2 separate regions of the Homo sapiens genome follow, and region 2 is linked to region 1. Evidence: fine-mapped expression QTL. Tissue or cell type: whole blood. Region 1 holds a variant in brackets; the other region holds the start of a gene. All regions are shown on one strand. Distances are between the middles of the regions.

What was found. PIP is the estimated chance that this variant, and not a neighbour inherited with it, causes the effect. A credible set is the group of variants that fine-mapping cannot tell apart.
Region 2: MAMDC4 starts here. The variant in region 1 is the best candidate, but not a certain one, in a credible set for the expression of MAMDC4 in whole blood (TOPMed, PIP 0.50).

Annotation. Positions count from the first base shown.
Region 1 is chr9:136,904,144-136,909,143 of GRCh38, reverse strand. TRAF2 (TNF receptor associated factor 2) reads right to left here. Exons shown (of 11, transcript NM_021138.4): 5 at 913-1,074. Among named protein-coding and RNA genes, the nearest start is that of MIR4479, 20 kb to the right of the region's middle. The variant G/A (reference allele first, on the strand shown) is at 1,935.
Region 2 is chr9:136,849,854-136,855,358 of GRCh38, reverse strand. MAMDC4 (MAM domain containing 4) reads right to left here and starts at 3,013. Exons shown (of 27, transcript NM_206920.3): 1 at 2,897-3,013; 2 at 2,150-2,257; 3 at 1,901-2,074; 4 at 1,689-1,814; 5 at 1,452-1,582; 6 at 1,283-1,367; 7 at 1,023-1,148; 8 at 683-820; 9 at 509-597; 10 at 249-422; 11 at 21-105. The coding sequence starts at 2,942. It overlaps PHPT1 (phosphohistidine phosphatase 1), which reads right to left. Exons shown (of 3, transcript NM_014172.6): 2 at 5,222-5,346; 3 at 4,335-4,604. The coding sequence ends at 4,512.

The DNA.
Region 1 (5,000 bases):
CCACCGCACTCTCTACCTGATGCATTTAGACTTTTCTAAGACAAAAATGCTTTTTTGTCCTAAAAACAAACTTTTTTTAAAAATTTTTTTTCTTTTTTTTTTTTTTGAGACAGAGTCTTCCTCTGTTGCCCAGGCTAGTGTGCAGTGGTGCAGTCTTGGCTCGCTGCAACCTCTGCCTCCTGGGTTCAAGCAATTCTCCTGCCTCAGCCTCCCGAGTAGCTGGAATTACAGGCACTCGCCACCGTGCCTGGCTTTTTTTTTTTTTTTTTTTTCCGAGACGGAATCTCGCTCTGTCGCCTGGGCTGGAGTGCAGTGGCGCAATCTCGGCTCACTGCAAGCTCCGCCTCCTGGGTTCACGCCATTCTCCCGCCTTAGCCTCCTGAGTAGCTGGGACTGCAGGCGCCCGCCACCATGCCCAGCTAATTTTGTTTTTGTATTTTTAGTAGAGACAGGGTTTCACCATGTTAGCCAGGATGGTCTCGAGCTCCTGACCTCGTGATCTGCCCGCCTCGGCCTCCCAAAGTGCTGGGATTACAGGCATGAACCGCCGCACCTGGCCACTCCTGGCTAACTTTTTGCATTTTTAGTAGAGACGGGGTTTCACCATGTTGGCCAGGCTGGTCTTCAACTCCGGACCTCGTGATCCGCCCGCCTCAGCCTCCCAAAGCGCTGGGATTACAGGCGTGAGCCGCCGTGCCCGGCTTACAAAAATGCTTTTGAAAGGCCTCGGCATTAACTTCACACCCATTCCCAGTTCTGCCAAGAAACATCCGCCCGCGTGTCTCCAGGGAAAGGGCCGAGGGGGTGGAACGAGTGCAAAGGGGCCGACGCAGCCGCAGTGGCCAGCACGCAGCTCCCCAGCTCAGCCCCGCATGGCTGCAGCCACACAGGCTGCTGCTCCACCCCACGCACCTTCACGTCTGCTCCGCAGCAGGGTGCCCGGCAATGCCGGCAGCTCAGGCTTCTCTCCGGGCACTCGTGCTCCAGGTGGCGCTCCTTTTCACCAAGGCGGACCAGGCCTTTGCACGCGGGACATTCGGTCAGCATGAGCGGGCAGCGGCCTTCGTGGCAGCTCTAGCAACGAAAGGAGGAAGCGTCAGTAGAACTCGCGTGGGACATTTGGGCAGCCACAGCTTCACCCGGGGACACAAGGCGATGTAGCGCTGGCTTGGTGTCCGCATGCTGGTCCTGGGGGCCGCCCTCTGCAGATAGCTCTCAGGGCTCCCACAGGTGGGAGGGCAGGAGGAGATCAGATCAGTGTGTCCTCGTCTCCACTCTCTTCACCGCACACTGAGCTGAGGGGATGCTCTGCCATGGGGGTCTCTGTGTGGATGCCTTGCCACCACCAGGCTCCCCGATCTGCCCCCTGAAACAGCCAAGTGCACAGTCCCTGCTCTGCGCCAGCGGGTCCCTGCCACACACACCAGCTCCTAACCGAGAAAGCAGGCCACGCTCGATCTGATGACCAAGCCCAACGCGGTCCAGGCTGAGTCTTGCCAGTCCCAGCCCCATCCTCATTGCAGGTGGGAGGTGTGAAGAGGTAGGGAACACGCACGGGAGATAGCATGCGGGCAGCTGGCCTCTGCCTCCAGCACCAGGAAGCCAGCAAAGGCCTGAGGCACAAGCCCACCAGGCCAAGGTGCCAGGAGCTGGGTCTAGCTGCACAGCACACGCATCTGAAAGGGCCGAAGCTGCGAGGAAGACAGGCGAGGGCCAGTGACACACAGGAAGGTCACTCAGGCACCTACACGTTCCCACACACTGAGCCACCCAGGAGCTGGGCAGAGGCCCTGCCCTCCTGGAGCTGACAACCTGGTAGTGACCACCAGTGCCAGAACACCAGGGAAGGCAGGCAGTGGAGGCAGGGCCGGGGAAGGTGCCACAAGATGCAGACTGCAGACTAGGGAAGCGGGAGCCGGTGCCGCAGGCTAAGC[G/A]TCAGGCGAGGCAGAGGACTGTGGACGTCCACAGATGGCCAGGGTGGCAAGGGAAAAGGACACAGAGGGAAGGGAGGCGGTGCCAGCTCCTCGCCACACCCAGGCCAGGAAGAATCAAGAATGTAGGATGCAGAACCCAGCCACCTCTCCAGCCCACTGCTGCCCCAGGCAGGGCTTCCCCGACCGTCTTGAGGGCTCTGCCCGAATGTGAGGGGTCAGGACAGCAAGGTGACGGGATGTGGCTGAACCCTTCCAGGACTGCCTGGCAGCTGCACCTCTCACAGACTCTAAGGTTGGGAAGCCGCAGCAGTCACAGGAGGAAGAACGGGGTGGCAGGCACTACAAAGGTGCTAGTGTAACGGGAGAGAGGGCCGGATTCAGGATGTGTCTGGGGAGCCACGTGGACCTGCCGGCAGACTGAACGTGCCGCTTACAGGAACACAGAGAAGTCAAGAAGGACTCTCAGGCCTCTGGCCCAAGCCACAGGAGGTCCCACCTGCCTCCATAAGGGGCTGGTGAGGTACAGAAATAAAACTAAACAGGGCTTTTTGTTTTGTTTTGTTTTTTGAGACAGGGTCTCACTTTGTCACTGATATGGTTTGGCTGTGTCCCCACCCAAATCTCATCTTGAATTGCAACTCCCATAATCCCCATGTGTTGTGGGAGGGGCCTGGTGGGAGGTCATTGAATCATGGGGTGGGTTTTTCCCGTGCTGCTCTCGTGATAGTAAGTCTCATGGGATCTGATGGTTTGATAAAGGGCAGTTCCCCTGCACATGCTCTCTTGCCTGCTGCCATGTGAGACGTGCCTTTCTCCTCCTTTGCCTTCCTCCATGATTGTGAGGCCTCCCCAGGCACATGGAACTATGAGTCCATTCAACCTCTTTTTCTTTATAAACTACCCAAGTCTCGGGTATTTCTTTATAGTAGTATGAAAATGGACTGATACAGTTACCTAGGCTGGAGTGCAGGGGTAAGAATACAGGTCACTGCAGCCTCGACATCAGCACCCACATAGCTGGGACTATAGGAATACAGGCACGCACCACCACACCCAGCTAAATTTCTTTGTATTTTTGGCAGAGCCATCTTGGTTTTTTGTTTTTGTTTTGAGATGGAATCTTGCTCTGTCGTGCAGTGGCGCGATCTCGGCTCACTGCAACCAGCAACCTCCACCTCCTGGGTTCACGCCATTCTTCTGCCTCAGCCTCCTGAGTAGCTGGGACTACGGGCGCCCGCCACCACACCCGGCTAATTTTTTTGTATTTTTAGTACAGACAGGGTTTCACCGTGTTAGCCAGGATGGTCTCAATCTCCTGACCTCGTGATTCACCTGCCTTGGCCTCCCAAAGTGCTGGGATTACAGGTGTGAGCCACCGCGCCCGGCGGTAGAGCCATCTTACCCAGGCTGGTCTTGAACTCCTGAGCTCAAGCAATCTGCCCACCTAAGCCTCCCAAAGTACTGGGATTACAGGCATGAGCCCCTGTGCCTGGCCAGAGTTAAACACGTCTTTTGGGAGAAGTCTGCTATGACTGGGAACAGAGAAAGGGAATGGAAGTCAAAGGAACAGGAAGTTGAAAATCTGCTGTTTCTTCAATCATGATAAACATAAAATGTATCATCTTAACCATTTTCAAGTGCACAGTTCTGTGGTATTAAGTACATTTCACTGATGTTATGTAACCATCACCACCATCTACCTCCATCACGCTTTCCCATTGTAGAAACCTGAAACCCTGTCCCTGTTAAACCCTAACTCCCCATTCCCCTGCTCCAGCCCCCAGCACCATCTATTGGCTCTCAATTTGACCACTCCGGGGACTCTGTCAGTGAATTCACGCAGTCTTTATCTTCTTGTGCCTAGCTTAGCTCACTGAGCACAACACTAAGTTTTGAGACAGGAGAGACTAGAGCATATTCTGTACCGATGGGCACAACCCGGAGAGAGGAGGACAATGTGCTGAGAGGAAGGTTCCTGAGAGGCCAGGGCAGCAGAGGACCTGGCTGCGGGGCCCTTCATGGGGTGGGGAGTGGGGGTCAGCAGCTCCATAGAGAGCTGGCTACAGCTCAGGAGCCCCAAGTGACTCAGGAAAGGTTAATGCTACTTCCCCCAAGAGGGGAGACCCTGCTCTGGACAGCACAGGCACTTGGGCTGGCTTCCATTCAACCTCCCCAGGGAGTGTTCCTCCCAAACCTTCACACAGGCACAGCAACTACTCCTTAGAGGCGCCCCAGGGAACATGGGCCCAGCCCTCCAAGACCTCCAGCGGCACTGGCCCAAGCTAAGCCTGCTAAAGGAACCAACTCCCTGAACCCAACAGCGCCTTGCACTCTGCTACCCACTGACGGGACAGGACCCAGCCCTCGGCCACACTAGTGTGTAACAAGCCACCATCAAGCTGAATCAAAGAGGAGCCTCAGCAACTATTCTGGCTTATGAAACCTAAAAACGAAAGCACAAATAGTCAATGTTCTTAGATTTAATTAAAAGACTGTTCTTTAGGCCAGGCGCGGTGGCTAACGCCTTGTAATCCCAGCACTTTGGGAGGCCGAGGCGGGTGGATCACGAGCTCAGGAGATTGAGACCATCCTGGCTAACACAGTGAAACCCCGTCTCTACTAAAAATACAAAAAAAATTAGCCGAGAGTGGTGGTGAGCGCCTGTAGTCCTAGCTACTCGGGAGGCTGAGGCAGAAGAATGGCGTGAACGTGGGAGGTGGAGCTTGCAGTGAGCCGGGATCGTGCCACTGCACTCCAGCCTGGGCGACAGAGTGAGACTCCATCTCAAATAAATAAAAAAATAAAAATAAAAAAGACTGTTCTTTAAAACATAGTAAAATGGCCGGGCACAGTGGGTTCCCACCTGTAATCCCAGCACTTTAGGAGACCAAGGTGGGAGGATCACTTGAGCCCAGGAGTTTGAGGCTGCAGTGAGCTATGATCCCACCACTACACGCTAGCCTAGGCAACAGAGCGAGACTCTATTTCTAAAAATAATAGTAATAAAATGCTCATAGGTGAAATGATATGACATCTTCATTTGCTTTAAAATAAGCCAGAAAAGAA
Region 2 (5,505 bases), 54 kb after region 1:
GGCAGAGTCAGCAGGCTCACCCGAGACTGGTCTGCAGTGGTCAGACAGGATGAGGTCGTCCAGACCCACGACGCCCCCCGGGCCTGTCTGCCCGGCCAGGAGGATCTGAGGGCAGAGGGGCTCAGGGGGTGCCCAGCCTATTTCCCCCTGGGGTCTGGTCCCTGTCCACCCGCAGTGGGTACCTTGTGGGTTCCCCTCCCCTGCCCACAGTGCGGCTCCCCAGACCCCACCCTCTTGCTGTTCCCTACCTGGAAGGGGTAGGCGCTCTGGATGTCAACACGGTCTCGGACCCAGGCGGTCCCCAGCTCCCCTCGGCGCCTCCGCAGCAGGACGGGGGCCCGGGGGGCGCCGGGCCCCAGAGTCTGCAGGAACAGCTGGAGGCAGCCAGCCTCAGACCCACTCAGGTACTGATAGAAGACCAGCTGTGGAACCAAGAGCTGGCTGGGGGCCTGCACCGGGGCAGCCAGCACGGAGAGCAGGGAGGCCCTGTGAGCCCCACCCATCTCACCGAGCAGTTGGAGGTGCCTGAGGCTTGGAATTCGGGGCTGGAGAGTATAGCAGGGGTGCCAGGCTCGGCCACGGAGACCAGGAAGGAGCCTGCGGGAAAGGACGGGAGTGGGCCAGGGCCACTGGGCTGTGGCTGCGTGGGCAGGGCCTGGGCCGGGTCCTCTGTGGGCCTCACCCTGTGCACTGTTCCGGCTGTGGTCACGGCGTGGCCAGGAGGGGCGCTCAGGACCACCAGCGCGGTGGTTCCGGGACCAGCCTTCCGAGCGGTTCCATGGGCCCAGGCCTGTCTCAAAGTCGGTGGCTATGTGGCGGCCTAGGGCAGGAGGTGGGCGTGTCAGGGCCACCAGGCAGTGCTTCCTGAAGCCGTATGGCCCCAGCTCCAGGGGGGCCCTGGCAACCACACCCCAAGAAGGACCATCCAAGGATCCAAGGCACCCCCTCCTGGATGAGTGCCAGGGCCCCCACCGAGGCGTCCAGTCTCCCAGCCTCACTCTGGGCCCCCACTCCGGCCTCACCACAGGTGAGTGGGTTCTCATCAGACAGGTCCCCGCAGTTGTCTTCCCCGTCGCACAGCTGCTGGGGCTCCACGCAGACCTTGTTCTGGCAGTGGTGGTGTCCCGGGGGACAGTTGGCCTGGGGGGCTGGGTGGGGCAGGGTTAACCCTTCACCGAGGCCCCAGGAGTGGGAGAGCACTCGGGGGCAGACAGGGTCTGAGCAGGGGAGTGGGCAGGTGGGGGCCCTCCCGGGGGTGGAACAGGAAGAGGCGGTGCCTTACTGGGCAGACCACAGTCCCAGAACTCTAGGTCATCTAGAGCCACAGCGCCCCTGTGGGTGGCATTTCGGGTGGCAGAGAAGGTCACCTGAAGAGAACAGGCTCTTAGGACCTAAGTCAGGGCCCAGACCCCTCCTCAAGGCCCCCACTCGTCCAGACCCTCCCAGCTCACTCGGAAGTCACCCCGGATGCGGCCTGTGGTCACTGCCAACTCCTGCCAGCCAGGGCCCCAGGGCCCTGTGCTCTGCCACAGGGTCAGGGTCTCTGCGCCATGGGTCAGCTCCACCCGCAGTTCAGCCACATCTGCAATGTCAGGGGTCCCAGGGCAGCTGCGGCCCTGCTTGTCCCCAGCTGCCCACCCGCCCTCCCCTTGGGCACCCCCCACGAGCCTTGGGGGTCCAGGGTGCACCTCCAGAGGCCGCGTGGTACCAGAGCCTCAGCTTGCAAGAGGAGGCTGCCTCTCGCAGGGTTGGCGAGCGCAGGGCTGCGGTGGATGCCTCTTTCCCTCGGTGGGTTCCAACGGCCATGTACCAGCCTGGCGCAGGTGAGAGGTCAGGAGACGGGGCAGGGAGCAAGGAGGGTATTGGGACAGGGGCGCACAGAGACTTGCCCTGGCCTCACCCAAGTCGGTGCCCAGTGTGTGGTCTGAGTGAGGCCCAGGACCCTCCAGTGCGGCCCCTGCCCTGTCTCGGAGCCAGCTGTAGCCTGAGGTACTAATGTCCCGCCAGCCGCAGGGGTCCTGCTCGAAGTCACAGGCGAAGGGGGCGCCCAGGGTGGGCGAGGCCCCGTGGTAACCTGGGAGAGTGGGTGGTCAGGTGTGTGCCAGACCTGCTCGCACTGGCCCTGCCCGCCCATCTGGTCTTGGCTCACCACACTGGGCCTCATCTGAGCAGTCCCTGCAGTCACACACGAAGTTGCACACGGCCTGGCCAGGGCTCCTGCAGTGGTTGGGGACCCAGGCCCAGCCTGAGGACCCTGCTGCTGGGAGGTTGACAGCCAGGTGGCCTGGGGGCAGGGTGACCAGCCATCCCAGCCTGCCTAGGACTATTCAGTTTTAGCACTGGACATCTTTTGTCCGGGGATGCCCCTCAGACCAGGAGATGGAGCAGGGAGGGGCTGGGACCCACAGAGAACTCCCACCCGGCTCAGGACCAAGCACAGCACGTTCCTGTTTCCAGCCCTGAAGAGGCTGGGGAGGGGGACCCGGCCATGGGGCACCCCAAGAAAGGTAGCAGGAACCCAGAGTGCCCAGCAGGGAACTGGGCACTGGGAGGGCGACCCCCAATGGGAGGCATCGACGGGCGGCCCAGGGCCTCCACAAGCTCCACCCAGTCCAAGGGTGGCAGATGAAGGCTGGCAGAGCTGGGGGCACCTCCTGAGCCCTCTTGTCCCAGACTGGGAGGGGAGTCGTGCCTCTTCCTTTGCTTGGCAGGCCCGAGGACCCCATGGGCTGATTCCAGGTCACCCCCCTTGCAGGCCGGCCAAGGTAGTACCTTGCAACCCTCCTTCCCTTTGGGGCTCAGGCATCAGCCCTGGTGTCCGTCACTGCCACACAGATGGTAGGCTCAGAAGCCAGGGCCCCTGGTCCTGCCTCAGGAGTGGGACCAGACTACTTACCCAGGAACAGGACCAAGGCGGGCAGCAGGTGGCTGGACAGAGGCATGGTTGGGCCAGAGGGAGCAGTGCGGCCACACAGGGTGCCTGGGAAGTTCCGTGCGGTTATCAGCCTGCGCTGGCCCCGCACGCTGACTCTGCTGTTAAGTGGAGGGCCCCTCGGCCCGGCCCCACCCAGTGCTGACGGTGCCAAGCATGGGCCGTGAAAGTGGCCCCAGGAGGGGGCCTCTGACCCAGGGTCAGCTCCCACCTGCCCGGCTCCCTCAGACACAAGGTCAGGCTCTTCCACCCTGCCCTGCCCTGCCTGGTGAAGGGGAGGCTCCCACTGGAATGGGGAGGGACCCAGGCACCCCACCAGGACTCTGCTCGGCAGTGTGGGGCGGGCAGAGGCCGCCGTGGCCTCTCACTGTGCCTCTGGCAATAGCGTGGTGCTGGCCAAGGTCAGGACTCAACCAGTCCAGCAGCTGCAGGAGTCCAGCACGTGCACCAGAGCTGGTCCCTGCGTTCTCAGCCGTGGGGAACCTGCCTTTAAGTCAGGCTGTGGAGGATCACGCCGTCATTCATTCGTCCTGAGCAGCCAGGTGCTGTCCGGTGCCAGATACAGGGTCCCTAGGAGCCCAGAAACTTCGGTTTCTCATGGAGCAGACTCATGCTTGGGGCAGGGTCTTTGGGGCTGGGGAAGGAGTGTGGCATTTGGGGCCAGGCCCTGTTTGTGATTTCCCATGGTGTGACCTCGGAGCTTGTGTCACTGAGCCTCAGTGTCCCGGTCTGTAAAATGTGGTTATGACAGTGCCCGTCTGGAGAGGCTGGCCGGAGGACCAGTGAGCTGACAAAGGTGGGGGTGCCCTGTGTACAACCAGCCCTGGCCCCCAGGGTGCCCCTGCACCACCCCATGGAGTCCCACTGTGTATGGGGCTTCCCAGGGCAAGGCCTGAACCCGTGTCCTGCCCACAGCCCTGCCGGGTGCAAGAGGGACCTGGGAGGGGCCTCCAGAGTCAACGTGAGCCTGTGGGGTAGATGCAGCTGTGCGACCTGACCCTGGATACTGGTAGGCCCCATGGGGCTGGTCATGGAAGGAGCCTGCAGGTCACGGAAGGAGCCTCAGGGCAGACAGGACACTGGGGAGCCCTGGGATGGGCTCATAGGAGGGAGCACTGGTGGGCGCCCCAGGTCTTGGCCAGCCCGAGGGACCAGGCCCTGACTCCTCTCGCAAGGGCTTGCCAGACCTCCTCCAAGATGCCCTGGAGGACGATGGCCGTGGGAAGAGCAGTCAGGCCATCAGCGGGCCCCTTTATCAGACCCCAAAGGGCTGAGTGTGCACCGCCACTCCCTGGGGCCACTCCTGTGTTCCCCCACCCACCTGCTTTAGTTAGGGTCTGGGGGCCCCCGGAGGTGGTGACGCAGGGTGCAGGAAGCCAAGGACAGAGTTCAGAAGCCGGCAGGTGTGGCAACACGTTTAATTCTGTGGCCAGGCTAGCCTGTCTCCAAGGCCTGGTGGACAGCACGTCACCAGAGGCTGCCGCAGGAGCAGGCAGGGCCAGCCCTGCAAGAGGAGTGCAGGCAAAGGCGGGGGCTCTGAAGTGGCTGCTGGAGGCAGCAGGCCCCGGGCTGGGAGTGCTCAGTAGCCGTCGTTAGCCCAGGTGACCTCGTAGTCGGGGTACTTGGCTTTGATTTTCTCAGTTGAAATGGCGTGCTGGGCAGGACCATAGGCCTGGAGAAGAGAAGACGCCTGCTGGCACTACCTGGACCCTTCAACCCGATACCCGGCTCTGGGCATCCAGCCACCAGCCACACCAGAAGCGAGTGTGGGAAAGGGATAGGCAGTGCCTGGGGATGCCAAACCCACCATCCCGACCGCCCTTGGGGGCTCCCCTGGGGAGAGGCGACCTCCACAGGCAAGCAAACCTTGATGGTGGATCCTGGGGCCTGAGGCGCCCAGAGGGACGCACGTGGGTCTCATCTGCTGGTGGTTTTTGTGAAGAGCACAGGTGGGGACTCTGAGCTCCACCCAGGTACTGACTGCCTCTGGGGGCCCAGGGCCCAAAGTGCTGGAGGACAGCTAGAGCCCAGCAAGGCCTCCCAAGGCAGGGAGAGGAGACAGCCGGCCATGTCTGGGGGTGTCCGTCCCACCCCTCAGGTCTGGCGTGTGCTCCATGGGGGAATGCAGGAACACAATGGGCCCTGGAGGGAGGGCTCTGCCGCCGACCCTGGGAGAACCCCAGGAAGCCTGCGTGCTCAGCTGGGGCCACGGGTCAGGGCAGCAGGCTCAGGTGGGCCTCGAAGCTGGTACTGGGGCCTCCGGCAGGGCGGGACGGGGCTGCGGCTCACCATGGAATAGCCGTACACGTGAATCTTCTTGTCCTGACTCTGGTGGGAGATGCGCCCGCCGCCCAGACACTCACAGTCGCAGCCTTGCTTCTGCATGTCGCCCGACACTTTGTCGTAGATGTCCGCTGGGATGGGAGGGCGGCCTCAGGACGTGCCCTGGCCGCCCTTGGAGGCCGCGGGAGGAACTCCCAGCCGAAGGGGTCTGAAATCCCAGCTCTGAACAGCCCCTTCCCCAGGAGAGACGAAGCCCCTTGAGGCTGGGACAGGGATGAATGAGCGAAGGA